7 linked regions of the Homo sapiens genome follow. The protein of the gene in region 1 purifies or fractionates together with the protein of each later gene. This does not show direct contact. Each region holds a gene or a part of one and is shown in the gene's direction. Other genes may lie near its edges. The genes, in order: TUBAL3, RIC8B, WRAP73, RAMP3, NUDCD1, CCT6B and ITM2B.

What was found.
Region 2: the proteins of TUBAL3 (region 1) and RIC8B purify together in Homo sapiens (affinity purification with mass spectrometry, with the first as the bait; one large-scale study listed by BioGRID). This does not show direct contact.
Region 3: the proteins of TUBAL3 (region 1) and WRAP73 purify together in Homo sapiens (affinity purification with mass spectrometry; one large-scale study listed by BioGRID and IntAct). This does not show direct contact.
Region 4: the proteins of TUBAL3 (region 1) and RAMP3 purify together in Homo sapiens (co-immunoprecipitation; one large-scale study listed by IntAct). This does not show direct contact.
Region 5: the proteins of TUBAL3 (region 1) and NUDCD1 purify together in Homo sapiens (co-immunoprecipitation; one large-scale study listed by IntAct). This does not show direct contact.
Region 6: the proteins of TUBAL3 (region 1) and CCT6B purify together in Homo sapiens (affinity purification with mass spectrometry; 2 studies listed by BioGRID and IntAct, with this or other methods). This does not show direct contact.
Region 7: the proteins of TUBAL3 (region 1) and ITM2B purify together in Homo sapiens (co-immunoprecipitation; one large-scale study listed by IntAct). This does not show direct contact.

The regions. Positions count from the first base shown.
Region 1 is NC_000010.11:5,398,186-5,402,401, reverse strand, and holds part of TUBAL3 (tubulin alpha chain-like 3), read left to right. Parts: intron 1-1,314; coding exon 1,315-1,558; intron 1,559-4,216. UniProt on the Homo sapiens protein: Tubulin is the major constituent of microtubules, a cylinder consisting of laterally associated linear protofilaments composed of alpha- and beta-tubulin heterodimers.
Region 2 is NC_000012.12:106,812,337-106,816,552, forward strand, and holds part of RIC8B (chaperone Ric-8B), read left to right. Parts: intron 1-2,359; coding exon 2,360-2,968; intron 2,969-4,216.
Region 3 is NC_000001.11:3,632,879-3,637,094, reverse strand, and holds part of WRAP73 (WD repeat-containing protein WRAP73), read left to right. Parts: coding exon 1-100; intron 101-1,064; coding exon 1,065-1,151; intron 1,152-1,800; coding exon 1,801-1,935; intron 1,936-2,020; coding exon 2,021-2,098; intron 2,099-3,591; coding exon 3,592-3,697; intron 3,698-4,216.
Region 4 is NC_000007.14:45,160,271-45,164,486, forward strand, and holds part of RAMP3 (receptor activity-modifying protein 3 precursor), read left to right. Parts: intron 1-1,987; coding exon of another isoform or gene 1,988-2,151; intron 2,152-3,427; coding exon of another isoform or gene 3,428-3,596; intron 3,597-4,216. UniProt on the Homo sapiens protein: Accessory protein that interacts with and modulates the function of G-protein coupled receptors including calcitonin gene-related peptide type 1 receptor (CALCRL), calcitonin receptor (CALCR) and G-protein coupled estrogen receptor 1 (GPER1).
Region 5 is NC_000008.11:109,274,820-109,279,035, reverse strand, and holds part of NUDCD1 (nudC domain-containing protein 1), read left to right. Parts: intron 1-3,539; coding exon 3,540-3,684; intron 3,685-4,216.
Region 6 is NC_000017.11:34,940,578-34,944,793, reverse strand, and holds part of CCT6B (T-complex protein 1 subunit zeta-2), read left to right. Parts: intron 1-1,887; coding exon 1,888-1,998; intron 1,999-2,150; coding exon 2,151-2,310; intron 2,311-4,172; coding exon 4,173-4,216. UniProt on the Homo sapiens protein: Component of the chaperonin-containing T-complex (TRiC), a molecular chaperone complex that assists the folding of proteins upon ATP hydrolysis.
Region 7 is NC_000013.11:48,267,292-48,271,333, forward strand, and holds the end of ITM2B (integral membrane protein 2B), read left to right. Parts: 3' UTR 1-3,066; downstream 3,067-4,042. UniProt on the Homo sapiens protein: Plays a regulatory role in the processing of the amyloid-beta A4 precursor protein (APP) and acts as an inhibitor of the amyloid-beta peptide aggregation and fibrils deposition. Plays a role in the induction of neurite outgrowth.

The DNA.
Region 1 (4,216 bases):
TAGATTTGTTTCAGCACCACAGTCAATCAAACCACACCAATATTAAGAACAGCGATTGCTATCACCTCAGATTTCTTAGAATTTAGCTTTTACTTTCCTTCTCATTTTTTTTCTTTCCTTCTCTTAAAAACGTAGATCATTGTCTGTTTAACAGAATAGTTGTTTGCCTTAAAAAAAAGATGATTTAAAGTGGGATGGGGGAATATGAAGGTGGAAGAAATAGTAAAGTTTAGACAAGAAAATAAAATCACTACCCAGATATTACTAAACTTAATATCTTGATGCATTTTCTTTTAGATTTTTATGCCTATTTTTGAACATATTGGACATCATACTCTATATGCAATCATGCATCTTATGTGCTTTTTACTTAATATGTTATCATAAGCATTTCCCATGTCATAAATCTTTTTTTTTTGGGAAAACGTTTAAGGGTTGCATAACATGTCATTGTGTTGATGTAACATCCTTTAAATGCTCAACAATATATAAATGGTTAGATTAAATAGATTGGTTTTTGGTTTTCATGCTTATGAATTGTGATGCTTGTGAATGCCATCAGCCTACATCCTTGCATTTTAGAGTCTTTCTTTTGTAATTTGTTTGTTTATATCATTTGCCTAGCTAGTGGATGTCTTAAGTGTTTTTTTTTAGAAAGTTGATGTATATAAAATCAATTTTTATCTCTATATGTTTGTTATAAAACTTTTACATTTTGGAACTGTTAAATCTATTGCATTTTGCCTTGTAAAATTTCCCACTAGTTTTAAGTTTAGTATATCCATCCTTATTCAGAGTGCATATGAATGGTAAAGATAACATTTTAAATTTATCTGCGATGAGTTTTAGTACTTGACAAGGCTATATATTGATTTTAGTTTTATTTCTTTCCAATAACTAGCTAATTTTATTTCTAGACAAGCCCACTTGATATATATAACTACACGCACACACACACACACACACACACATCTCACCTATATTGAAAGAATAAAGTAAAATTAGTTGTATTTTGATTTGCATTGTGTGTGTTTGTCTTAATTCAATTCTTAGCCAAGTACAGAGTAGGTGCTTAATTTATGTTGTTAAAATAAACTTTTTAATGGAATTTAAATCCCAGGTTTAATTTTCCCTGAAGCTTAGCTGTACCCTGGGTCTTGGTTTCCATGAAACGCTTTTGATTATCCTTATAACACATTCCTCCGTGGCCTTAAGCTAGCTTGGTTTCTGTCATTTGTAACCAGAAGGGCTGAGTAACAGATCTCCTGTTTTCTAAACACCTGCTCAGTTCCAACTCACCATGACTTATTTTAGAGGGAGTGCCTTTCCATCCACATCGGTCAAGCTGGCATCCAGATTGGGGACGCCTGCTGGGAACTCTATTGCCTGGAACATGGAATCCAGCCAAATGGCGTTGTTCTTGACACTCAACAGGATCAGCTGGAAAATGCAAAAATGGAGCACACAAATGCATCTTTCGATACCTTCTTCTGTGAGACAAGAGCTGGGAAGCATGTGCCTAGAGCACTCTTCGTGGACTTGGAGCCAACTGTTATAGGTACAATAAATGTTCCATTCTAGCATACTTAACTGGAGCCACACTCAAACAAATCAAGTGGATGGGATTAGCAGATTATACAGGTCTATCTGAATGGAATCACATGGACCTTTCCCAAATGTAGAGGCTTACTCAGTGGCCATGGGTGATTAACATGACAAACACACCCAAAGGGAAGACCAGATTAGTGTTTTTGAATTTAAATTTATTTATTTATTTATTTTGAGATGAGTCACTCAGGCAGGAGTGCAGTAGCGTGATCTGGGCTCACTGCAACCTCCGTCTCCTGGGTTCAAGCAATTCTCCTGCCTCAGCCTCTGAGTAGCTGGGATTACAGGCACACACCATCATGCCTGGTTAATTTTTGTATTTTTAGTAGAGATGGAGTTTCACTATGTTGGCCAGACTGGTCTTGAACTCCCGACCTCAAGTGACCCACCTGCCTTAGTCTCCCAAAGTGCTGGGATTACAGGCGTGAGCCACCACACTTGGCCTAGGTTAGCCTTCTTTACCTGTGTGATGAAATGAATTAAGACCTGCTAATTGATCCACACATATATCATAATAGAACACTAAGTCTTTTCCTGGGTTTGAGAGCCATTTGCTAGAAGGCACTGGCAAAGAATCAAAAAGTTTTTCGATAGCTGCTTAAAAAGAGTAGAATATTTGAAAAGAATCCTAAAGGAAAAAGAGGCCAAATATATACCCTAGTTATGGGAAAAACAGTACAATTTTATGATTACTAACAATAGACTTGTAGTATGTCATGCAAAAACTCTTGAAATGGAGCTAGAAAAATAAAGGAGAGAGAAGGGGCTCTTACTGACTTAAGAGAAAAGCTAGACAGTGGGGTAGATTTGGGTTTGATGTTGTGCATCCCATTATTTGTTGGCGTGTAATAAACTTCCCCTACATTTAGTGGTTTAAGGCAATAATGATTGCTGGTTTGTTCATGAATCTACAGTTTGGGTGGGGCTCAGAGGTGACAGCTCGCCTGTGCTCCATGTGGTACCAGCTTGGAAGGCTCAAGTGGGAACTGGGGCATCCACTTTGAAAGTCACTCATTTACATCGCTGCCCCTTGGTGCTGGCTGTTGACTGAGAGAGTGGGAGGGGTGGAGAAAAGGAGAGGCTGACGAATTCAAGGTCATGATAAGAAGGAATTGAATACAACCCCATAAACACTTCAGCTGGGTGATAGAAGTACAAAGATGAATAAATGTTGATTTTTGCCTTCGACGTGAAGATGCCTGTCTTGGTCAACTCGGACTGCTGTATTGGAACACCATGGACCCGGTGGCTTAGACAACAGTTGTTGATTTCTCACGATTCTGGAGGCTGGAAGTCTGAGACCAGGGTGCCTGGTGGTTGGCTTCTGGTGAAGGCTCTCTTCCCAGCTTGCAGATGGCTGCCTTCTCACTGTATTCTCATATGGCAGAGAAATAGTCTGTGTCTCTTCTTATAAGGGCCCTAATCCCATAATGAAGTCTCTACCCTTATGACCTAATTACTCACAAAGACTCACCTCCAGATACCATCACATCAGGGATTAGGGATTCAACGCATGAATTGTGGGGGGACACAGCCATTTAGTCCACAGCAGCTATTGTTTACTAGTTGGGGAACTGCACAGGTATTTTCCTCTAATTCTTTCAACACTCTGTCAGGAGACATTATTATCATCCTCAATTTATAGATGAGGAACTTTATAAATCTTGGGGAAGTCAAGGAACTTGCTTAAGATCACTGAGTTATTAGAGTAGAGCTGGGTTTGGTCCTAGGTTTGCCTTCTTATTAAATCTATTGTCTTTTAACAGGAAAGTAGCCTAATCTAGTGAATAAGAAAAAATAAATAGTTATAACAACACTGTTGAAATTGAGCCATATAAAATTGCCAGTATATGACTATTTTTTAATCTAAAAAAGTTAATTGTATTGTATATGATACAACTTAATAGACATTTCTACAACAAGTGTGTCCAATAATTTGACCTCCCTGGGACACATTGGAAGAAGAAGAATTATCTTGGGCCACACATAAAATATACTCACACTAACAACAGCTGATGAACCAAAAAAAAATATTGCAAAACGATCTCATAATGTTTTAAGAACGTTTACCAATTTGCGTGGGAATGCATTCAAAGCCATCCTGGGCTGCGGGATGGACAAGCTTGCTCTGCAAGGCAGAAGGAATGAATAACCGGGGAGTCATCCAATATGTTTGTTTGTTTGTTTGTTTTTTAGAGCGAGAGAGACTGGGTCTTGTTCTGTCACCCAGGCTGGAGTGCAGTGGCGTAATCATAGCTCAGTGAACTCCTGGGCTCAAGCAGTCTTCCCACTTTGGGGTCCTGAGTAGCTTGGACTACAGGCACATGTCACTACATGTGGATAAGTTTTTTTTTTTTTTTTTTTTTTTTTTTTGAGACAGAGTTTTGCTCTTTTTGCCCAGGCTGGAGTTCAATGGCACTATCGCTGCTCACTGCAACCTGTGCCTCCCGGGTTCAAGCAATTCCCCTGCCTCAGCCTCCTGGGTAGCTGGGATTACAGGCACATGTCACCATGCCCTGCTAATTTTGTATTTTTAGTAGAGACAGGGTTTCACCACGTTGGCCAGGCTGGTCTTGAACTCCTGACCTCCAGTAATCCACCTGCCTCG
Region 2 (4,216 bases), on another chromosome or scaffold:
TTGGTTTTTGTATAGCCCTGGCTATTCCAATTTGTCTTCAGGCTCTGCTCTTTTTCTTTCTTGAGTCTGAAGTTATTAGGAAGAAAGGTACCATATTGCCTATAGTTTGTTTTTTTTTTTTTAATTTTATTGTCGCTGTTGTTTTTGGTTTAGAATGGAAGAAAGATATTTGTGTGCTTTTAGATATGTAGAACTCCAAGTTCACATATATAATATTTTATAATACCTTATTACATGTTTCTCAACTTAAGGAGGATGGTAGATATTTCCTTCTTGAATAAAATTGTGTGGAAACAAAGGTGATCTGACTCCACCCCCAGGAATATACCACATGTGAAGCAGTATGTAGAATGTATTTTTTTGTCTTGAATATGAAAGATCTAAATATGGAGAAAATTTTCCCTGTTCTGTATACTTTTAATTAATGGGCACATTATACTTTCCACTATCCCCAAACTACATTCAAAAAAAGTGCTTTAACAATGATAGTAAAATATTAAGAGAAAGTCCTTTCTAAATATCAGGTATGGCAGGGATAGAATTGACAATGTTATGAAATTTTTTTTTGTCTTATCAGATAAAGTTCTTTTCCACATCTATTTAGAGAACGCAATACAGTCATCCCTCTGTATCGTGCAGTCTGCATCTATGAATTTAATCAATTGTAGGTTGAAAATACTCAAGGAAAAAAAGGATAGTTGTGTAGAACATGTACAAACTTTTCTGTCATTATTCCTTAAATAATAAAACGATTTACGTAGCATTTACATTGTATTAGATATTATAAATAATCTAGTGATGTCTTCAAGTATACAGTAAGAAGTGCATAGGTTATATGCAAATACTATGCCTTTTTTTTTTTTTTTTTTTTTTGAGACAGAGTCTCGCTCTGTTGCCAGCCTGGAGTGCAGTGGCATGATCTTGGCTCACTGCAACCTCCGACTCCCTGGTTCAAGTGATTCTCCTGCCTCAGCCTCCCGAGTAGCTGAGATTACAGGCACGTGCCACCATGCCCAGCTAATTTTTTGTATTTTTAGTAGAGACGGGGTTCCACCACGTTAGCCAGGATGGTCTTGATCTCCTGACCTCATGTTCCGCCTTCCTCAGCCTCTTGAAGTGCTGGGATTACAGGCGTGAGCCACTGCGTCCAGCCTTCTATACCATTTTATATAAGAGACTTGAGTATCTGTGGATTTTATTATCTGCAGAGGGTTCTGGAATCAATCCCACACAGATACCAAGGGATGACTACATTTAAAATAGGCATTTTTGTAGCTGATGACTATGTGCACATAGCCTAGGTTTCCTGACAAGATCACAATGGGACCCACAGGCAGCCTCTTTTTATTGAAGAATTAAGTCTGATGATAGATTAATAGAAATTTTGTAAAATCTTATATTGGTAATAGTAGTTGTTGTTTTTATAAGATGTAAGGGAGTACAGAAATGTTCGGTGATAGAGTAGTTATACCTGCTTGCCTCACATATAAGGGTAAGCTTGAGAGACCCAGACCTGCAGTTTGTAGAGAAGAAAACTGACATTGAATTTTGAGGGAGTGGTCAGTGATCCTTAAATTTGACAATGGTATAAAAAAATCCTTTTTAGGAAATATAAGATATTTGGGTTCATTCTAGAATTGTTTTTGAGATATTGATAGCAAGGTTTGGAACCAGAACTACTACATATATTTGTACAGTCTGTGCCCTACAGCAAGATAACAAAAGAAAGCTAAAATTCTGTCCACAGTCTGAGCTTTCCAAGCTATGTGTGCTTTTTAATAATTTGCCCACCCAGTGGGAACTTTTTTCTGTAGTTTGTATACCAGGAGGGGTCACCTTTTTGCAATTGGCTCAAGGCATAATAGATGCTAATTCAACTCTATTTGGAACCTAACACTTGAATAATTTTTTATCAGTTTGTCAGCAAAAGTTCTTCTCTGGGGTTGTTTGATGATTAAATATTATTAGATCTTAGCTAAAGGGGGTTCAAGGGTTTCTGAAACATGGGACTGCTGCTAAAGAGCTATAAATTCAGAAGCAATAGCATGACTAAAACTCAGCAGAAATGCATACTTCTTTAAGTCTTTTTGCAAGAGCCTGTACTCTGGACAAATATGAACCAATTCTTGAGACGTTAATCTTTATTTCTGGGAAGGGAACAGCTATGATTCAAACTGATTGTCTTCCATCCTGATGGTGACCTTATATTTCAGTTTCTAACATTCCGTGATTTAAAAAATAATAAAAACCTTTTCTCTCTGGATTTTTAACTGTTGTTAAGTACATTGGCAGAGAAACATTCTGTGTTAAGTCATTTGAGCCAAATAATGATTTTTGCATACTCGTTCTTGTTTTTCAGAAACTCTGTGAAGGCATATTTAAAGTCCTTATAAAGGACATCCCAACAACATGTCAAGTGTCCTGCCTGGAAGTACTCCGCATTCTCTCCAGAGACAAAAAGGTTTTAGTTCCTGTGACAACTAAGGAAAATATGCAGATACTGCTGCGACTAGCCAAGCTAAATGAGTTAGATGATTCTTTGGAGAAAGTATCAGAGTTCCCAGTTATTGTGGAGTCATTAAAATGTCTGTGTAATATAGTGTTCAACAGTCAGATGGCACAGCAGCTCAGCCTGGAACTTAATCTTGCTGCAAAGCTCTGTAACCTCCTGAGAAAGTGCAAGGACCGGAAATTTATCAATGACATTAAGTGCTTTGACTTGCGCTTGCTCTTCCTTCTGTCACTTTTGCACACCGACATCAGGTCACAATTGCGCTATGAGCTCCAGGGACTACCGCTGCTAACGCAGATCTTGGAAAGTGCCTTTAGCATCAAGTGGACCGATGAGTATGAATCGGCCATAGACCATAATGGACCTCCTCTCTCACCTCAGGAGACAGACTGTGCCATTGAGGCCCTCAAAGCTCTCTTCAATGTGACGGTAGACAGTTGGAAGGTGCATAAAGAGGTAAGGTAGAGAAGGCTATTTTTGTCTACCTGGAATTTAATTGGTCTGGGACATCCCTAGAGTTTCCTGCAAGAGAAGAATACAAGTTGGGAAATGGAAAAAGTTCCCACTTCTCCCATTAAGCAATTGTATTACCCAGGATATACTTCTTAACCATTGTAAGTCTTATTCTTTCCATTTGTGTGATAACACCTATCAGAATAGGTGTAAAAATGGACTACTATTTTGTAAGATGCCAAATATAGTTTTCTGAGTTGCATTATTCTCTCTTTTTAAGAGTGCCGCTTTCAGGAATAAGGTTTAAATTATAAGATTTGAGGGGAAACAAAACAATGTAGTTGATAAAGCTATAGGCATTTTCAGTGGCTGCCATCTTAAAGAAAAGTTAAGACAGATCAAGCCAATTGAAGTTGATCAATCAGAATTGGTGTCTGCTCAGGAGAGTAGAAGATGCTCTGTGTATGCCTGTTGTCCCAGTCTCTGGGAGGTTTCTCTGTAGTGTTAGATAACTATCAGAGGCATAGGACCACAACTAGATATCTGTGCTCATATATAAGTTCTAGAAAACAAGCTGATTATACCAGAGTGTGGGAAAGGTTATTTTAAACCACTTGACTTATTTCTAAACAAAGATCTTTCTTCACTGTGGCTTGGACCCTTCAGCAACCCAAAGTGACGCAGATTTGATAGTTTACATTTGAGTACCCACAAGAACAATATGCTAAATAGGAAACTTAGTTTAAGGAAGTCAACAAATTAAGTGAAGTAGACATAAGCTTTTTTCCCTCCTTCTAGAAGCATAACATGTCACATTTATTCTCTTTTTAGCTTTAAATAACTGTTGAAATTCACCCCCTCCTGTAAAAAGAAAGAGATTTTTGGTTCCAGAGCAAATTGTCTTTTTTGACAATTGACTTTAAGATTTAGGCTAACATTTGAAACACTTCTCACCCATGAGTAAAGATCTGTTTTTGCCAGCAGCCTACTTTAAAGGGATTATCTCAGTGCATTGTTATAGGGGGAATATGCAGACATCTGAGTTTTAAAGCGCAAATAGATCTGTATTTTGAAACTAAATATTTGAATATCAGCTCTAACAGCTGTTCTAGATGACTGTAGTATGGTCAGTTTTTCCTGGGACTTGGCAAGAAAAGATGTGGAAAGCCCACATGCTCCATTTATGCATTGAAACCAAATATTTGGAAGTATTTAAAATGTTATGTTTCTATGCTTATTTGGTACCTTCTA
Region 3 (4,216 bases), on another chromosome or scaffold:
CACCTTCACCAGGGACGGCCGCTACATGGCGCTGGCAGAACGGCGCGACTGCAAAGATTACGTGAGCATCTTCGTCTGCAGTGATTGGCAGCTCCTGCGGGTAAGGCGTCCCCCAGACTGGAATAAAGTTGTCCTGCTGACTGTGGAGGGATCGAGTGAAGTAGATCCTTCCAGATTCCAGGGGATCTTTGGTAGGATATGGAGCAAGGTGATGTTGTATTAACAAAGGGCAGGTGCGCTGCGAATCACTTCCAGTGGCACCCGGTTGTGTGTTCAGGAGACTTGGTGAAAAGGACGCGTGCCCAGGTGTTTTAAAAGTGAATATGCTGTCACATTTGAGCCCTTTTCCTTGTCCTGTGTGATGGTGTTTGCGCATGTGTGTGCCACGTCGGGAGTTGGGGGGACGTGGAAGTTCACCTTGACTGAGGGCCTGCATTAGGCAGGGCGCTCTGCCAGGTGCCCAGGCACAGAGGGCACTGCCCCCACAGCAGACATATGAACACGATTCCAGCACAATCCATCATTAAGGTAGAGCAACCTCTGGAATGCTGTCAGAGTGCAGAACCCGGGATCCAGGCAGTGCTCTGGAAGGGACTTGTCTGAGCTGGGTCTAAAGGAGTGAGCCTGGCCAGGCAAGGAAAGGTGAGGGGGAGAGTGTGCACATGAGTGCAGGTGCGGGGAGACCAAGCCACCTTCGGGGGCTGGCCAGGCAAGGAAAGGTGAGGGGGAGAGTGTGCACACGAGTGCAGGCGCGGGGAGACCAAGCCGCCCTCGGGGGCTGGCCAGGCAAGGAAAGGTGAGGGGGAGAGTGTGCACACGAGTGCAGGCGCGGGGAGACCAAGCCGCCCTTGGGGGCTGGCCAGGCACTGACGCTGGCATCTGTGGCGGTGCAGCCCCAGCAGCAGCTCTACAGGGATTTCATGCATTTCCAGGATAGAGCTGTTGAGATTTTGTCAATTTCTATATAAGGAAATTAAGTGCGTTAAGAACATCAGTCATAAATGCAATTATTTATTTACGAAAATATTTTCCAAATTTAATGTTTCCCCCCCTTCCTTTGGAAGCATTTTGATACGGACACCCAGGATCTCACAGGGATTGAGTGGGCCCCAAACGGCTGTGTGCTGGCAGTGTGGGACACCTGCTTGGAGGTATGAAGATGACCAGGTGACATGTTTGCTTTCGAGAGCTTTTCCCGGAATTTCATGCTTTCTGAATGCTGCAATATAGTTTGCTTTATCTTATTTCAGATAACAAGTTGAGCTTTGTTTTAAAAGACAGGGTCTTGCTCTGTCACCCAGGCTGGAGTGCAGTGGTGTGATCACGGCCCACTGCAGCCTCGACCTCCTGGACTCAAGTGATCCTCCTACCTCAGCCTCCCAAGTAGCTGGGACCACAAGCATGCACCACCACGCCCGGCTAATTTTTGTATTCTTTGTAGAGATGGGGTTTCACCGTGTTGCCCAGACTGCTCTTGAACTTCTGTGTTCAAGTGATCTGCCAGCTTCGGCCTCCCAAAGTGCTGGGATTACAGGCGTGAGCCACAGTGCCCGGCCGAGTTGAACTTTTATCAGCGAGCCATTAGGTTGACCTCCCAATTTCCCCTTTTTCCTCATGCTCTCACTGCCTCTCCGTGACTATCTCAGTACTAGCTGGCAGTTCCAGCTTTTCCACGGCCACGCGGACAGTCCTGCCAGCTTTGTGCTATCTGCACCAATGTCACTCTGCAGCACCCGCGTCTGTGGTGTGTTCCTGGCGACGGGGGTGTATTCATTATTAACTGAAATGTCTCATCTGCAGTACAAGATTCTGCTGTACTCATTGGATGGCCGGTTGTTGTCCACGTACAGCGCTTACGAGTGGTCCCTGGGCATCAAGTCTGTGGCCTGGAGCCCCAGCAGTCAGTTCCTGGCAGTTGGGAGCTATGATGGAAAGGTGGGAACCAGTGCAGGGCACTCAGGAAGTCCGACCGCCCAGCGGGCCGGGCCCTGCCTCACCTGTGCATGGTTTCCTTCCTCAGGTGCGCATCCTTAATCACGTGACTTGGAAAATGATCACGGAGTTTGGGCATCCTGCAGCCATTAATGATCCCAAGATAGTAAGTCTGGAACACGTGTTTCTGCCTGAGCAGGCTGTTGGGGAGGGCGGTGGGAAACTGCTCCTTCACTTTGCTTTCTTGATTGTGGTTTATTATTTAACCGGGCACTTCCATCACCGTAAACTTGCTACTGTGACATTTCACGCGTCTGGCCCTGCCCTGGCCTTTGTTCTTCCTCCTCCACGCTGCCCAAAGGGTCTGAAGTGGGCCTTGCCCTGGCCTGTCCTCTGCCGCTGCCACCCCAGTCCAGTTTTCTCCTTTGTGGTCTGTCTGGATGCAGATCCCTGTGCTGTACAGAGTGGCCAGGGTCTCCTGCCCCCAAACACTGGGCATCTGCTGTCGTGCCAGGCACTGTGCTCTGGGCCGCAGCCAGAGAAGAAGAGACAGACCCCTGCACTTGCAGAGTGCGGCTGGAGAGACAGGGAAGGGGCTGGAGAGCTGGGTGTCTCCACGGGGTGGCAGGGAGTGGCCACCAGCGAGGGATCGCAGGCACAGATGCTGCACCAGTGATCAGGGACTCGGGGAGGGAGCGTTCCAGGCCAAGGGAACAGGAAATGCAAAGGCCCCGAGGAGTGGGCCACGCATCCATGTGTGCAGCGGGCACTGCGCTGGGAGCCAGAGACAAATGCTGCCCTCCTGGTGTTGACCTGTAACCGACAGAGCTGAGTGAAAGGCGGCTTGGATTCGATGAAGAGGCCAGTGAGTGGCTGGGGCTGCGCATGCCAGATCAGCCACTGCCGGGGATGCATCCTGGAGGGGTGTTTAAGTGAAGACCAGGAGGAGGAGCTGCGCGGTGTCTGGGCAGAAAGGGTGTTTCAGGCAGAGGGGCCTCCTGACGTGGCCAGTGGCTTGTGTGGCTGGAGGCCAGGGTGTCTGGACAGGTGAGCCCGAGCAGGGCTGGCCACACAGGTCCTGAAGGTTTGCCTGTGATTCCTGCATTCTCCAAATCCCTTCGCCACACAGCAGCAGAGCATGCTTTAAAGGCATGAACCAGGCCAGGTGACTCCCTTACCTGGGGCTCTTCAGGGGCGTAGGGGCTGCCCGCCTTCCACTGAGCCTGGGCCGCTGTCCTTTGCTTGCCAGGCTCTCGGGCACAGATGCCCCCACCTCGGGTCTGTGTCTGCTGCTCCCGGGGCCTCTGCTGTGTTGGTGCAAGTGTTCTCTGTATCCTCTTATCACGGAGGGAAGGCTGAGCCCACTCCCTTGCTGGATGATGGTGGCTGCAGTGGTCTCCCGTCTGTAATCACAGGGCACACATTTGCTGCCTGTGTCTCAAAGGGTGGGCTCCTCAGCAGGACACGAGAGAGGGTGGCTGGGTGATCTCAGCTCTCGGGACTGCGGGGTTCGTGCTTCCGTCTCTCCCGGTGGCAGCAGGACCAGCTGTCATGGCAGGCACACCTGTTGACCATGCGCTGTCATGGGCATTTGCCACGTCCATCCTTGGCTTCCGGGTCCCTGTCCTGAGCCGGGCGTGGCCACCTTGTGTCTTTCAGGTGGTGTATAAGGAGGCCGAGAAGAGCCCACAGCTGGGACTGGGCTGCCTCTCCTTCCCGCCGCCCCGGGCCGGGGCCGGCCCTCTCCCGAGCTCAGAGAGTAAATGTAAGTAGCACATGTGATGTCATTTGTTTTCCTTTTTTAATGCAAGATTCCTCGTTGTCCAGATAAACTTCGGATGTTCCTTATGTTTAAAAAAAAAAACTTTTTTTCCCTTCCATGCTTCCAGCCAGTGTGCCCCTCAGCCTGTTGGCTGGAGGTTGACTAGGGTCTGAATTGCGCAGTGGGCCGTGAAGGTGCGGCTTCTGTTACTGAATATGAGCCCTGGAGACCCGGATCTGACAGCGGGAGCTCCGAGGGGATGTTTTTCCGGAGCTCCGAGAATGATGTTTTTCAAAGAAACACTTTTCCGTGGGTGGCGCTCAGAGTGGGTCTGGAACCCGGCGGTGCTCCCGAGCGCTGTCTCCGGCTTGAGGCCCGGTTCTGATGCAGCCTCTTGACTCTGGGCATTTCCTATGTGTCTGTTTCCTCATCGCTGAAATGGGCATAGTAAAAGCACCCATCCCACAGGGGCATGAGGGCATCTGAAGGTTGCAGGTAGAGGAAGCGGTGCCCCAAGTGCCG
Region 4 (4,216 bases), on another chromosome or scaffold:
GCAGTGAGCCGAGATCATGCTATTGCACTCCAGCCTGGTGACAAAGCGAGACTCTGCCTCAAAAAAAAAAAAAAAAAAAAAAAAAAAAAAAAAAAAAAAAAGACTTGAAGGTGGTGATTGGCCAAGAAGAGGCCCATAGATTTTTGGCACTGGAGGTTCCTTGGAGGTTATCTGACCTCCATGCTCTTACCTATTCTTCATAAGGAAACAGAAATCTGGAGGTTAGAGAGGAAGTTGCCCAACCACAGAGACCAGGGGCAGAACCGCCCAGAATCCACAGCCTCCCAAGGTCGACTGACCGTGGCCCATGGCAGCCACTTGCCAGTCTCGTCGATGCTCTTTCTGTCAAGGAGGGGGAGAGCGCCTGTGTTTCATTTCCAAATGACTAGCCACAAAAGCCCTTTCTGGCGGAAATGCATCTGTTTGGCTGTTTATCATCTCTCAGTGGCGTCTGGAAGTCCCTGAGACAAAAGAAACACAGGCCGGCATGTTCTTTGTTTCCCAATGAAACCAACCAAAATGGATTTCTATTTTGATTCAGTTCCTGCGACCTTTACTAATGCAGCCAGTAGCTTGATTGGCAATGGCCCTCTTTTGTGGTGTTGCCAGGAATCTGTCTTTACACCATTGTTCTAACATTGGGTGGGTTGTCAGGTTTTGCTGGGAGCCCCTCAAGCCTCATGTGCACTAGAAATGAGCTCCCTGGGGAGGGCACTTGGTTTCTCAGGGTGCCTGCCTTGTGCAGGCCCAGGGCTGGTGCTGTCACAGGCATCCTCATAGCACCTCCGTGGGTAGAGGAGTTATCCCAGAACACCTGCCTGAGGATGGCATGTGGTCCTCAAAGGCACATTTACAATCTGCCTGAGCCAGGTCCTTGCGATGGGGCATGTGAAGATTATGGAGTATGTAGAGATTTGGGGCATGCAGAGATTCAGGGAGGGGCATGTTGTCAGGGACCCCTCCTTCTCTTTTTAGATAGCTGTGCGACCTGGGTGGGTATTTGTAGAGCCGTGGGGGAGGGGCTGGGCAATGCCCTGGCACTGGGGGTGGTGGGGAATTGATGCTGTCTTTGCCTGGCTCAGTGAGGGAGATCAGGGGCTCAGGGAGAATAATAGTTGCCTGAGGGTAATGAATACTTATCAGGACCTTGTCCCTGAGCTGTGTTTCAGAGCATCATAGTTAATGTGAAAATGTGGCAGACACAGGCCCTGTGTAGGGAGGTGGGCTGTAGGAACAGCCATGACTTGGGCTGGCTGCGGCAAATACCTCCAGGAAAGGGCTGGGGAGGAGAAGGCAGTGGTTCAGATTCATTCTGACTTCCAAGAAGAGGAGGAAGGAAGGAGAGGAGAGGAAACAGGGGAGGGGGAGGAGGGTAAAGAAGGACAGGGGAAGGAGGAAGAGAGGAAGAAGGGGAAGGAGGGGGAGGCAGAGGAGGAAGAAGAACTGGGCTGGGTCTCGGTGGCCTGATAGGTGACAGTCAGAGTAGGCTGAGGGGGGACCAGGCCAAGTGGTCCAGGTCTAGGGGTTCAGATTCAGACCTAGGGGTCCAGGTGGACCAGGCTGCAGGTGTGGGCACTGGCCAGGAGGGACAGGGTGGGGCTAGCCTGGCTCGTGCCCATTGGGATGGTGGGCGGAGCTCAGGAGACCCACCCAAGGGTGCTGAGAGAATCTGTTAGGGAGTGACGCCAGACCCAGGGGTGAGGACAGGAGCTGGATGTGGAGAGCAGCTAGGCGAACCTTCAGAGTCCAAGGCAGGGGCAGCTTTAGGGTGAAGGTGCACAGGCCGCCTTAGTCCTCGTGTGACTCCACGTGGTCCCTGGGGCTTGCACCCCTTGGTCACTTATGCCAGGGCTGTCTTTTCACCTGCAGGCAGGTGCAGTTGAGCAGGGTGGCAGAGGGAGGCCTTGGGAAAGTCGCTTTCTTTTGGGCCTCCATCGTCCCATCTCTAAACTGAGGGAGGTGGTGAAGGAGGCATGATGTTTTTCAGGCCCTTCCCAGGATCAATGCCGACCTGTACTCCAGAATCTGTTGCAGAGCCCAGGCTTGACATGGAGCTTGGAAGTGCCCACTGGGAGAGAAGGAAAGGAAGGTGGGGATCGGGGACCAGGGCTAAGTGGGGCCACTCCAGCCAGGAGCCCTCAGGGCAAGGAGGTGAGCCTTGGATGCAGCCCTGCTTGGCAGACCAAGGGTGGGAATTGGAGTGAGGGTGTCAGTGTGAGGCAATGGTGACATGCCACCTGGAGACAGCTCTGTGGGCAGGTGGCCTGGCTTTGAACCTTGACTCCCCTGCCTTGTCTAAGTGAGGAAGCAGCTGACCCACCCTGCCACAGGGTTTCAGTCTTTAAGTACCTGCCCTGTCTGGCTGTTGTAGGGCTTGGCGGGTTGGGCCACACTTAGAACAGGGCATTCAGGGAGCACTGGTCAGTACTGAGGGGGGTGGAGAGCCTGGCTGAAGGGAAAGAGAAATGGGGCAAGGGTCTGCCAGGTAGGTGCCACTGGTTCTGTTTCTGAATGGGGACATTGAGGCTCAGAGGGGCAAGTGAGTGAGTGTCAGGGTCAGGGGCAGAGCCGAGGTGAGCACCTAGAGCCTTCTGGCTCCTGCTTGCTGCTCTTCCATCCCCCATGCCCTTACTCCTTGGAGTGTGGTCCTCGGACCTGCAGAAGGGGCTTGCCTGGAGCTTGCAGAGATGAGTGCTTTGGCCTCCAAGCCTGCTGGACTGGAATCTACATTGCTTGAGGTCTTCAGGTGATGGCCTGCACATCTGAGTGGAGACACATTGCTTTCCATCTCTCAGTCTCAGCCTTGACCCCATGTCTGAATCACTTGGAGGTTTTAACAAACATGAATTATTGGTTTCACACCCCAGAGGCTCCCATGCAATAGGCCTGGGCTGTGGCCTGGGTGAGCCTATTGTGCAGTTGACTCTGCTGGGTCTGTCCTATCTCTGGTGGCTGCCCTGAAAGATGACAGTGCCCAGAGGAACTAGGGATAGAGCCCCCAAGCCTCAGGGCTTTCTGGGTGGGTTCATGAATGGTGGTCCCTACCAGCCTTATAGAAGAATGGCTTCACTTTTGAGTCTCTTATTACTTTTTGGTTCCTTCAAAGCACTTCAGGGTCTAGAGCTGTGCTACAAGAGAACCTGGGGTCAGCAGCTTGGGATACACAGAAGTGGGAGCTGCTGGTGTCCAGGAAGGAGGCTGTGGTAATGGGGGACAGTCTGATTGTGGAGGAAGAGGGGCAGGTGCTGCCAGCAGCCAGAGGGTCGTGGAGCAGCAGCTCATGGGTGGGACAAGCTGGAGGCTGGGGTCAGCAGTGGTGGGAATAGGAAGTTGGGGCCCGATGGAAGCTAACCTTGACAGAGATTTTGTAGGTGCACAATTATTAACCAATGGAAACACACAGAATCAGAATCACTCTTTTTTACAGATGGGGAGACAAAGGACCAGAAAGGTGAAGGGCCCTGCTTGGAGTCACACAGCAAATCAGGAACTAAACAGGATGAGGTCTCTGTCTTCTGGCTCCGTGCCAGTGGGGCATCTGGAGGGTGGCACGGTCAAGCTTCAGAAGGACACGGGCCTCCATTCCTGCAGAGATGGTATGGCTTCTCTTGAAGGGACGCCAGCTTCAGTCCTGGCTGATGCTTGCCCAGGATTCCATGATGTGAAGGTTCAGAGGGCCTATTTGGGTTAAGTGGGAGAGTACTGTGGCTGAAAACCCACTTCTGCCTTTCTATTAGACTTTAAATAAACTCTGAAGACCTGTACATCCTGCTCCAACCTTGCCCTGGGTCTACCTTTCCAAAGTCACTTCTTCTTTCCTTTACACCCACAATGGTGTGTACCCCACCCTTCCACACACAGTATACCCAGCTCCACTGTGCTCCTGCCTGTGCCCTGGACACCTCTGTTCCTCCTCTGTTCACGTTTTCTAATAGCTTCCTGATTTTTATCTACTTGTTCTGTAAATTATTGAGAGAGGAGTATTCTCCAATTATCTGCTGGGTGCGGTGGCTCATGCCTGTAATTCCAGCACTTTGGGAGGCCAAGGCGAGAGGATCACTGGAGCCTAGCCTGGGTAATATGAGATCTTGTCTCTACAAATAACAAAAAAAAAATTAGCTGAGTGTGGTGGCACATGCCTGTGGTCCCAGCTACTCAGGAGGCTGGGGTGGGAGGATTGCTCAAGCCCAGGCAGTGAAGGCTGCAGTGAGTCATG
Region 5 (4,216 bases), on another chromosome or scaffold:
AGCTAATTTTTGTATTTTTTGTAGAGATGGGGTTTTGCCATGTTGCTCAGACTGGTCTCGAACTCCTGACCTCAAGCGATCTGCCTGCTTCGACCTCCCAAAGTGCTAGGATTACAGGTGTGAGCCACCATGCCCAACTGAAAATATATGTTAAAAAACAAAACAAAGCCAAAACAAATTTGCAAACATATATTCATAGCAGGCATACTTATAAAAGCCAGAAATATCTCTAGTGTTACTGAAAAGGTGAATGGATAAGTACGTGTGGTATATTCATACAATGGAATGTTACTCTGTAATAAAGTGCTAGCAATAAATAAAAAGCAATATGAATGAATTAAAAACATGTGGAGTGAAAGAAGCCAAAGACAAAAAATCATACTGTATGATTCCACATATGGAGTTCTAGAACTGGCAAAACTAATCTATGGTGATACAAATCAGAACACTTGTTATCTCTAGGGTGTAGGGAGATTGACTGAAGAAAGGCCAAGGGAACTGCCTGTATGGTGGAAATAATTCAGTATCCTCATTGGGTTACAAAGGTGTATGCATTTGTCAAAATCAGTAAATTCTACACTTAAAACCTGTGAATTTTATTTATAAATTACACCTCAATTAAAGGAGCAAAACTGTGTCTTTTTAAAAAAAGATAAAGTTAAGTGTCTTTTAAAATTATAATCCTTTGCCCCCCACAACTGTGCCATTTTGCAAATCTATTATTCCAGGCAGTTTTTTCCCCAATTATTTGGATTACTAAAATTACTTTCTTTTATTTTAAATCAAGTCTTAGTAATTATTAAATTCAGTGATGGATTAATGAATAGAGTTAGGCAGTTAATTTTTTAAATAGTCAAATTTGGTCAGAAATGAGAAATGGTTGATTTAAAATACAACCTAAATCTTGTGCTTTAAGTTGATGTTACATAGAGGATAACTTAGATGTTTTTACACAAAGTATAGTTCTTAATTAGTAGTATATGATCCATGTGAGTCTGATACAAGTCTAAATCATGAGCATCCAAGAAAAATATATCTAGCTCATAGAAAGTTTGAAGTTGTAAAAGGTATCTTACATTTTATTAATGAAGACATTTGGTGATTTTGTTACACTTTTTAATATATCAAAAATAATTGCTTGAAAGTTTCTTTTAAAAGTATTTTGTATCTCCACATACTCCATTTAATTATGTTTATGTGTATGTGAGTCACATTTACAAATTGGCAAGCCAACTAGAACATATTGTTAAATGTAAGTCATCAAGCAGTAACCCAGCAAAGGTCTGGGGGAATAGCTTGACTTCATGTAAGTAGTTTCAGCATTCAATGCATCAACATAGATCAGTATTATTTTTCCATTAAATTTGAGGTGTTTGATTATTATTTTGTGTTAAAAAAGATAACTACAATGTAGCGTAGGTGGTATTGTTGTTTTAAAAACACGATTTTCTGTACTTGAGTAAATTATTCGTACCTCTCGTTTTCAAAAGTTACTGTTGTCTCACTTTGGAAAGATTTTTTTAACTAATCTGTAGTTTATTATATTTGGCATTGTTTGGGGTTTTTTTTTTGCTTGGATGGTAGCATACAATACTAGTTTTAAAACGTACAAATGCAGTCTTAGAAGAAGGGTGCACTGATTAACTGTGCAAATTAATGATGGTTTGGAAATTATAACAGATTGTATCAACTCTTTCAGACCTCTTTAGGTAGCAACTAAGAACAGTTCACTGGGTAAGTGTTCTTTAATAGTTATTTACATATATTTTTTCAGAGAGGCAGAATAGTGCAGTAGTGAAGAACATGGACTTAGAGCCAGACTGTTTAAATAGCTTGTGACCTTGGCAAGTTGCTTAACCTCAGTACTTTTTTTTCTTACTTGTAAAATGGTGATGATAATAATATTTACAGTACTTTATTTGGTTGTTGTAACCAATGAGTTAAAACATGTAAAGTGCTTAAGACAGCACCTGACATATAGGTAAGTATAAGCTATGGTCATTATTACTATTATTATCATCATCATTATTATCAAGATTACCTTTATCCTTAGAAAATGTAACTCAGTCTGGGGGCTGGGCACGGTGGCTCACACCTATAATCCTAGCACTTTGGGAGACCAAGGCAGGCAGATCACTTGAGGCCAGGAGTTTAAGATCAGCCTGGCCAACATGACAAAACCCTGTCTCTACTAAAAATACAAATATTAGCCAGGTGGGCATGATGGCGTGGCCTGTAATCCCAGCTACTTACTTGGGAGGCTGAGGCACGAGAGTCACTTGAACCCGGGAGTTGGAGGTTGCAGTAAGAGAGATTGTGCCATTGCACTGCAGCCTGGGCAAGAGAGTGAGACTCTGTCTCAAAAAAAGAAAAGATGTAACTAAATCTGGGCTTTTATTGTGGGAGTAATTTTCAGTGCTAATTATAAGTACTCATATTATTATTTTGTATAGTCTCTTAAAATAGGTAGTTTCAGAAAAATGTTAAATGCTGTAATTCATAAGGTAGTGATTGTAACAGTCTTGAAAAAGAACAGCTGGTAAGTTTGCGTGTCCTATTTGATAACTATAATAGTTATTATTGTATTCTTGCAGTTGTGTTCCAGGGCATGAGCTAATATGGTACATGTGTACGAAAGATGGCACATGGAAAAGGTTGCTTTGTTGTGGAATAGCTATTACCACTCCCCTTTTCTGTTATAGCAGTGGGTGCTCCCAAAGCATCTTACTTGGGTTTTCCTTCCTATTCCAGAGGAACATGGGACAAGTTACTTCTTCTCCTATGTCCGTAGTCTGCCTTGACTCTGCTCTCTTTCCCTTTCCTGCTGCATCAGTCCTTGATCTCAGGGTTCCCTGACAGACCATTTTAAGTGCATCTGGAATTGTTTAGTTGTTTACATGTACAGAATTAGATTTTAAATAAGTTAATAGAGAACACATTAACATCTTTTTTCCCTGTATTACCAAAGTTAATTTTTTTCCTTATTTCTACTTTTCAGTTATTTAACATCTGTATTTTAAAATTAAGATTTGCGTTGATTTAACCTGCTTGATCTTCAGGTTAATAATCATATATTATGGCTCTTAGTTTGTGAAAATAAAGTTAATTGTTGATTCCAGACACAAAGAATTATCCTTTAATTACAGCCCTTTTACTCTTTGCTTACATGCCCACACCCCCGACCATTCCCCAGATGTCTTATAGATCCATGCTTCTTGTATTTCTATTAAGTTCAGGAACATACTGCATACCAGTACTTTCTGGATGACTTGACTCTTTCCAGGCAATCCTCTCTTCAGGCCATTTGATGTACCATTTCCAGTGGTACTTTCTTTCTTTATTAAATCTGGACTATTTGCCATTGGATTATAGGTTTTCCATCACATGCAAAACTTAAATGAGCAAGATTTTTGGTAAACCATCCTCTGGACACCGGAGGGTTCTTTCTATAGAAGATAGAAACAAACAATGTTTGCTACTGATTGTATAATTTGTATAATTGCTTAATGTAACATTACTTTTCCCATTTAAACTTCTAGCTTGGAGATTTCCTTGATTAAGAAGAATGAAGGACTGACCTGGCCAGAGCTAGTAATTGGAGATAAACAAGGGGAACTTATAAGAGATTCAGCCCAGTGTGCTGCAATAGCTGAACGTTTGATGCATTTGACCTCTGAAGAACTGGTAAGTAGTTGGAATAGTAGTGTGACTTTCCAAGGGTCCAAAAATATGTTATGTGAAGATTATGCCATGCTTTTCAAACAATATTTTGCTTTTCCTAATATAAAAGATACATATCAGATACTACTGATCTGAGTGATGTTTGAATATGGCCTAAGTTCTAATATTTATTTCTTACACTATGTAAATACATACATATATGTGTGGTCATACTGTATAGAGGGTTTGCCTGTATCTGTTTATGTGTGCGTATGTATTGTGCGCTCTCTCTCTCTACATGTATTCTTTAGGAGAATCAACTGACCAATGCTGGTAGGACAAAAATTATGTTACAATTTATTTGCTAAGAATCTACTTATCCCTAAAATTTTTGAGGTGAGTTTACAATTTTGCAAGGATATATGTATCATATATAGTATAGTTATTTTTTCTTTATAATGTAATTCATTGTGATAATTACAGTGACAACACAATACTTAATCATGAGGTTGAATACATTCCCACTCTCATGACGTGTAAGATCATGTTAAGAATG
Region 6 (4,216 bases), on another chromosome or scaffold:
CCACCAGGCCCGACTAATTTTTTGTATTTTTAGTAGAGATGGGGTTTCACCGTGTTAGCCAGGATGGTCTCGATCTCCTGACCTCATGATCCGCCTGCCTCGGCCTCCCAAAGTGCTGGGATTACAGGCGTGAGCCGCCGCGCCTGGCTGGAAAACATTTACTTTTTTAGTGGCTTTAATGAGAGCTGATTGAATAAAGAGGTGGAAATAAAAGTCAGATTGAAGGTGGCTCAAGAGAGAATGGTAACTGAGAGAAGTGTAGTTATGAAGGAGAACAGAGAAATGGGGCAGTAGCTAGAAGGGAATATGGGAATGGGGCTGAGGGAGAAGGATTTTTTGTATTAATGATAGGAATTGTTACTGCAAGTTTGTATGCTGGTAAGGATGGTTCTTTAGGTGAGAATTGATATAGGGGACTAGGGGACAGTGCAAGAACAGAGAGGGAAATGGAATCCAGTACACAAGTAGAGAGGCTACCCATAGAGAGGAACATGGACAGCTCATTCATAGTAGTAGGAGGTTCAGGGTCAAGTGCAAGTGGATTGGTAGAGGTAGTAATGGGACAATGTTTCTATTTTCTCAAAGAAACAATGTCATTTGCTGACAGTAGGGAGGGAGGAAAGTGAAGGAGGCTTGAAGAGTGAGGAATGTTGAACATAGTGTTATTGTTTCTAGATATGTTTACATTCTGTTAAGAGGTGGAGTAATCTAGTTAAAGTAAAATTTTGAAAACTTCCTTATAATTATGTTGAACTAAAATAGTTTAAAAATATATAACAAAAATTAGTTATAAAGGATTCATAAGTAGAAATTCCATCCCCTGAATGTTTTGTAAATGAATTTTATAAAGTTATAAAAATATTGACTCTTGAAAGATTATTTGGAAAACAGGAAGAAACACCTCCTTTCCAAATCATCTATATTCCTACTACCCAGGCATAACCCCTACTCTTAGGTCCCTCCCATTTTTTTTCTTTTTAATGCCAAGTTGTTTTTTTTTTTAAATTTATTTATTTATTTATATTTTTTATTATACTTTAAGTTTTAGAGTACATGTGCACAACGTGCAGGTTTGTTACATATGTATACTTGTGCCATGTTGGTGTGCTGCACCCATTAACTCATCATTTAACATTAGGTATATCTCCTAATGCTATCCCTCCCCGCTTCCCCCACCCCACAACAGGCCCCGGTGTGTGATGTTCCCCTTCCTTGTCTGTTGTTAAAAAGAACAGTTATAGGCATGCTTCATATGCAATTTGTCATTCTATGCTTATCAGCTAGCCCTATAAATATTTTTCCATGTTATTACATACTTTTTATAACCATCAAATAGTTGGGTCATTATTTGCTGAATAATACCCTATTGTTGGACATTTAGGTTAACAATTTTTAGTTGTTCCATATAATCATTTTGAATAAATGTTCCTAAGAAACTCATTGTATACGTACCTTTCATTACTTGATAAGCTGTGTCATATTTTTGAATCACATAACTTAGAAAATAATTCTGGCTTGACTTTTTATTGTGACTTCATAGTCACACTGTGTTAAAGTAGATTCTCTTTCCTAATTTTACTAATTATATGTTAGGTTTAAAGTCAATGCAAGGAGGTGGGTGAGGTGGTGCACTCCTTTAGTCCCAGCTACTTGGGAGGCTGAGGCAGGAGGATTGCTTGAGCCCAGGAGTTCGTGGCCAGCCTGGACATCATAGCAAGACCCCCATCTCTGAAAACAAAAAACAAAAACACCAAAAACTGTTAAAATTGGTACAAGGAAACAATGTGTGTCCTGGAAGTATTGATGTAACTTTAATAGTACAATGATAATTTTATACCAAATTTTAGAGTATATATTCAAAGTAAGAAACATTAATATTTTTAATAGGTTGATCCAAGGATTAGTTTTGGATCATGGTGCCCGTCATCCAGATATGAAGAAGCGAGTAGAAGATGCATTTATCCTTATTTGCAACGTTTCACTGGAATATGAAAAAACGTGCGTGTTACTTTCTCTTTATAACTTTTGAATTTTTTTTTCTAAAGGTGTTTTAAAATCTCTTTTTCCTTCCAGATGTTTGGTGTAGACTACTTCTATCTTTTTTCCTTTTTCCTCCTGCCTTTACTAGCTGGTTTTTATTAATCTTTTAGAGAGGTGAACTCTGGTTTCTTTTATAAGACTGCAGAAGAGAAAGAGAAATTGGTAAAAGCTGAAAGAAAATTTATTGAAGATAGAGTACAAAAAATAATAGACCTGAAGGACAAAGTCTGTGCTCAGTCAAATAAAGGATTTGTCGTCATTAATCAAAAGGTGAGAAAGAAAGTTTAGATTTTAGTTATTTGTAAATGTTCTTAAGCATTTCTTGAAGTGTGGTCTGTGGACCCCTAAGAATCCCTAAGACTTTTTCAGAGAGTCTGTGAGGTCAAAAACTATTTTCATAATAATAATTACACCTTTTACATTGTGTTGACATTTGCAATGATGCTGCAAAAGCAATCTGTAAAACTGCTGGCACCTTAGTACAAGTCAAAGAAGTAGCACCAAACTATACTAGTAGTCATCGCATTCTTTATTGCTATACCACTGCAAACTTACAGTGAAAAAAAAAAAAGGCAGTATCATTTAAGAGTGTCTTGATGAAGTGGTAAAACTTATTAATTTATTAAATTTTGATTCTGAAATATGCATCCTTTTATTATTATGTGTGACAAAATATGAAGTATGCACAAAGCACTGTTTTTTTTTTTTCTTTTGAGACAGGGTCTTGTTCTGTCATCCAAGCTGGAGTGCTTGGGTGGCACCATCATAGCTCACTACAGCGTTGACCTCCTGGGCCCAAGTGATCTTTCCACCTCAGCTTCCCAAGTAGCCAGGACTACAGGTGTGCATCACCATGCCTGGCTAATTTTTAAGTTTTTTCGTAGAGGCTGGGTATTGCCATGTTGTGCAGGCTGGTCTCAAGTGATCCTCTTGGCTTGGCCTCCCAAAGTGTTGGGATTATGGGGCTGGGAACTTCAAAGCTCTTCTATTGCATACCAAAATATGATGGTTGTCTTGAAGGAGAGCACTTGTGTAATTGTTTAAATTGCAAGGTAAACTAGCCACTTTTTCATGGAATGCCACTTTTACCTGGAAGAATGACTGACAGACAAACTGTGGTTATCTAGATATGGGTATTTGGTAGATTTCTCTCAAAAATGAATGAGGAAATTCTGTGACTTAAAACAACTGACAGTATTTGTTGTCAATAACATTTGAACTTTTTTAAAAAATTAGAATTTCAGAAAACTTGTATCTGCCATGTGAACTTGACAGCTTTCCAATACTTAAAAGACTTTCCTGATAATAGTAGTGATATTAACAAATGTGAGTTTTTGTTCACTGAGATAGGCAAAGTTTCCACATGCATAACATGACACAGTTTCTACATGTATAACACAACATTTTATATATGAAATGTGTCAACATGTGGAAACTTTGCCTAACTCAGTGAACTGATGCTATCTACATGACTAAAAATGCATGATTTTTATAAAATCATACATGGATAAATAATCCATTCAGTGTGCAAGTTACAGCAATGTGTTTTAATGTGAGATAGTATGAAAAGTTCATTGCTATGGTTCCATAGTGAAACTAACCTTTGAGAAACTATTACTTACTGAGTTTTGGTATAGTATCAAAGAAGAATTTCCATAATTATCTGAAAAGCCTATTAAAATATTACTCCCTTTACAATATTTATCTGTGTGGGGCCAGATTTTCTTCATAAACTTGAACCAAAATAACATATCATTCCAAATTGAATACTGAATGAGATATGAGAATCCATTTGTTTTCTATGAAGATAAACATTGAAGAGATTTGCAAAAATGTAAAGTAATGCCACTGCTAGCTCACTATATATATTTTTGTTTTCAAAAGTGTAGTAAATTTTCATTTAAAATGTTATGTGTATTAACATAAAATGGGCTTATTATTTAAATGAATTAATAAATATTTTAAAAATTTCTCAGTTTTTATAATACAAATATTATAGATAGAGCTTACATAAACAAAAGCTTTTTGGGTGCTTAATCATTTTTAAGAGAGTAAAGTGGTGCTGAGACCAAAAGGTTTGAGAAATACTGGTTTAAAACATGTTTATAATTTTTATGTTAATTTGATTATAGGGAATTGATCCATTTTCCTTAGATTCTCTTGCAAAACATGGAAT
Region 7 (4,042 bases), on another chromosome or scaffold:
GCCAAATACTAGTGTAACAGCTACAACTTATCTAGTTTTAATCAACTCCAGGGAACATTACACTTTATTTAACCCCTAATTATCTGATAACCCAAGTTCTGTCAGAAACACTGCTGAGGCATCCAGGAAGATGAGCCTGTGAAATTTGAGAATCCTTCATGTCTCTGGAATGAGTCCCTAGATTCTAGCCCTGCAGCTAGCTGACACTCTAAAAAATTATGAGTGCCTTCCTTTAGCTCCCCATAGAAATGTCTTTGTATAACCATGGCATGATATTATTCTCTTGACTTTTGTTGAGGATTGATAGAAATAAAAATGAGCCAGAAATGTTTCTTCAGCTTTTGTAAAGTGCTGTTAAAAGCATTATGTCATATCTAGTACTTCTTATCTAAGTATTTTAAAATTTAGTGTTAGGAAAATTTTTTTCACATAGGATACATGTTAATATTAGGTAGTACATCTAAAGAATTCATTTGCTTCCCTTTTGCCTTGGTTGCTGGGAAACTCAGAGCCAAACTCGGTGCTTAGATTAATTACTTTCAGCCTAGGTTTTTCTGTATATCACCCTTTCGGTAGGGCTTGAAGTAACCCTTCAGTTTGCTCATATTTTGTTGTGAGTTTTATAGATAGTTTACATGCAACGAAATGCATATATCTTAAGTGTTCAACTCAGTGAGTTTTGACACTTTTCTTTGTCCATGTTAACAATCATCAAAACATTTTCATTGCCCCAGAAAATACCATTGTGCTCCTTTCCGGCAAATATTCCTTCCCTCTGCTAAAACTACTTTTTCATTTCTATGACCATAGTTCAGTTTTTGGCTATTCTTGAACTTTATTTGAATGGAATCGTACATATATAATCTTTTTGTTTGGCTTTTAAAACTCAGTATAACGTTTTGACATTTGTCCATGTTGTTGCATGACTCAGCAGTTCTTTCTTTTCAGTTGCTGTGTAGTAGTCCATTTCTTTTGGTTTTGTGTGTGTGTGTGTGCTTTTTAAATTTATTTTTTATTTTTTTTTTTTTGAGACAGAGTCTGGCTCTGTCAACTCAGGCTGGAGTGCAGTGGCATCATCTCGGCTCACTGCAATTTCTGTCTCCCAGGCTCAAGCCATCCTCTAACCTCAGCCTCCCGAGTAGCTAAGACTCTACAGGCGTATGCCACCATACCTAGTTTGTTTTTGTTATTTTTTTTAGTACAGATGGGGTTTTGCCATGTTGTCCAGGCTGGTCTCGAACTCCTGGGCTCAAAGCAATCCACCCTCCTCGGCCTCCCAAAGTGCTAGGATTACAAGTGTGAGGCACTGTGCCCTGCCAGTATTCCATTTTTTGTGTATACCACAATTTATCATTTTTTTCTGTGTAGGTATTTTCATTGTTTCCAAGTTGGGAAGTATGAATAAAGTTGCTATGAACATGCATGTACAAGTCTTTGTAGATAGCTCATGTTTTAAAAAGTGTTTGTTTAATGATTTCATTGCAAAATCATCTTTATTGTAAACATATCTTTTTGAGGGTAGATTGGTAAAATATACATAATAAATACATGACAATGCAGGAGTCCAAGTATTATTAGGTTTACAGTCATAACAAACACCAAGAACCATTTATAAATTTCAGTTTCTCATTGTTTTAGAATGGAAGGTCTAACCAAATATGTAATGTATCCCTTCAAGTAAACTAGTATAACTTGGGTACCTTCTCATATAAATTCCCCTTAAGGCATACGTTGCTGTCTTTTCCAAATTCCCATTTTGCTTGTCCAATAGGCATTATCAGATACAACATGTTCAAAGGCAAACTTGATTTTCCTCCCATGGTTTCCTCATCTCAGCTCCTTTTTTTTTCCAGTTGCACAGGCTAAAAATAGGAAGTCATTCTAGATTCCTCTCTTTTTCATAAACCTCACATCAAATCCATCAGCCAATCTGGTGTGCTCTACCTTCAAGATACGGATTATCCAGAATTCAGCCGCTTCTCACTGTCTCTACTGCTAACATAGTAGTCAAAGCTGCTATCATCTCTTGCTTGGATTGGTGCAATGGCCTCACAACTGATCTTCCTGCTTCCATACTTGACCCCTAGAGCCTCTTCTAAACAGAGTAGCTAGAGCGATCTTTTCTAAATCTAAGCCACATCATGTCACTCCCCTGCTCAAATCCCAACATTTTATTCAGAATAAAAGTCGAACAATGCCCTACCTGTAGGTAATCTAGGCCTCCAAAGCTCTTCTTACATCACCTCCTGTAACTCTCCCCCTTTCTCACTCCTCTACAGCCACACAGCTGCCTCACTTTCCTTTGAACGTACCAAGGGCAATCCTGCTTCAGAGCCTTTGCACTTGCTGTTTCTGGGCCAGGAATTCCACACCCTCCTTCCCTCACATGTATCCCAAGGCTCACTGCCTTCCTTCAGTTAAGTCTGCTGGAATGTCACTTCATTAGGTATTGCCTGATCACCTTTTCTAAAGTGAGTCTCACCTCCACCCTCAATGCTGGCAATGTCTGTCTGTAGTGTATTCTTAACAATACAGATTAGCACAATGCAGGCCAGACCATGAAGACTGTTTCAAGTTCGAGGATGGGCAAAAATAATGACTAGGACTTGGCTCAAGATTCCTCAAACAGCCAATAAACAATGCAAAGAATAAATGAGAGAGTAATTGGAGACAAGCTTTCCCTTGGCTTCCCTTCTTTTCTCACAGAGGCTTTTCCAGAAGGTGGTCATTTCCATAGCCCATGTGGAATGAGATGTCCACTAGGGCAGAGAAGCACAGAACCGTGGGCACTGCTTCCCTTCCTTTAACCCTATCATATTGCTGCCCAGTGAGCAATATGGTCATTGGTCAAGAAGGCTTATGCCCAGGTATCCCTGTGGCTATGAGCATTGCTCCTTATCTATGCCTCTGCTCTTAGACTTTTCCATTCTGCCCTCTTAGGGGCCTTCCTGGCCATGACCACACTACCTTATTTTTCTCTATAGTACTTATCACCATCTGACATGTATTTATGTTTGTATTTGTTTATTGTCTGTCTCTACAAATAAAATGTAAATTCCCTAAAAACAGAGACTTTATTATTTTTGTTCATGTTACATCCTCAGCACCTAGTAAAGCACCTGGCACGTATTAGGAACTCACTAAATATTTACTGAATGAACTTTGTTCAATAAATTTAACATGGTTCTATGTAGCCTCCTTTTTAAAAATTGGCTCTGTTATATAGACTTCAGGGGCAACTGATAACAAACAAAACCAAACTTGGCTTTTTTCCCTTTTTTTTTTCTTTAATTGTAGTTTCAGAATTTCATCTGGGAGTGGGAATGGCCACAGGAATGCAAGTTCTGTACACCTCAGATTTGGTGCTAGTGATGTTGCCATGTTAAGAAAGTGAGCTGGGCCTTGTGCCTTCAGTAGACAGAATCAAAATCTATTACTTTATTTTAATACCCGAAGTTCAAATTACCTCTTAGGTAGGGATCCCTTAAATGTGATAGTGCTGAATCACAATGGAGGAAAAAAATGGCAAAGAGTATATTGAAATTCAGACTGATTCACAGGTAAAAGGCCTCTTGGAGACAACACTCTGAGAAAGGGACTGCTTTTTTAAAAAATCTGCATGTTTTGGGGTCGAATGGGTTTGGATAGTAGAGACACAAAATGGAAATGGTAGCTGCTTCTCATTGATTCATTTTAATGTAATTTTTAAATTTTAATTTTTTTTTTTTTTTGAGACGGAGTCTCTCTGTCGCCCAGGCTGGAGTGCACTGGCGTGATCTTGGCTCACTGCAACCTCTGCCTCCCAGGTTCAAGCAATTCTCCTGCCTCAGCCTCCCAAGTAGCTGGGACTACAGGTGCCCGCCACTACACCCGGCTAATTTTTGTATTTTTAGTAGAGATGAGGTTTCATCATATTGGCCAGGCTGGTCTCGAATCCCTGACCTTGTGATCCACTCGCCTCGACCTCTCAAAGTGCTGGGATTACAGGCGTAAGCCACTGCGCCCAGCCAAATTTTTAAATTAAAAAAATATATATATTTAT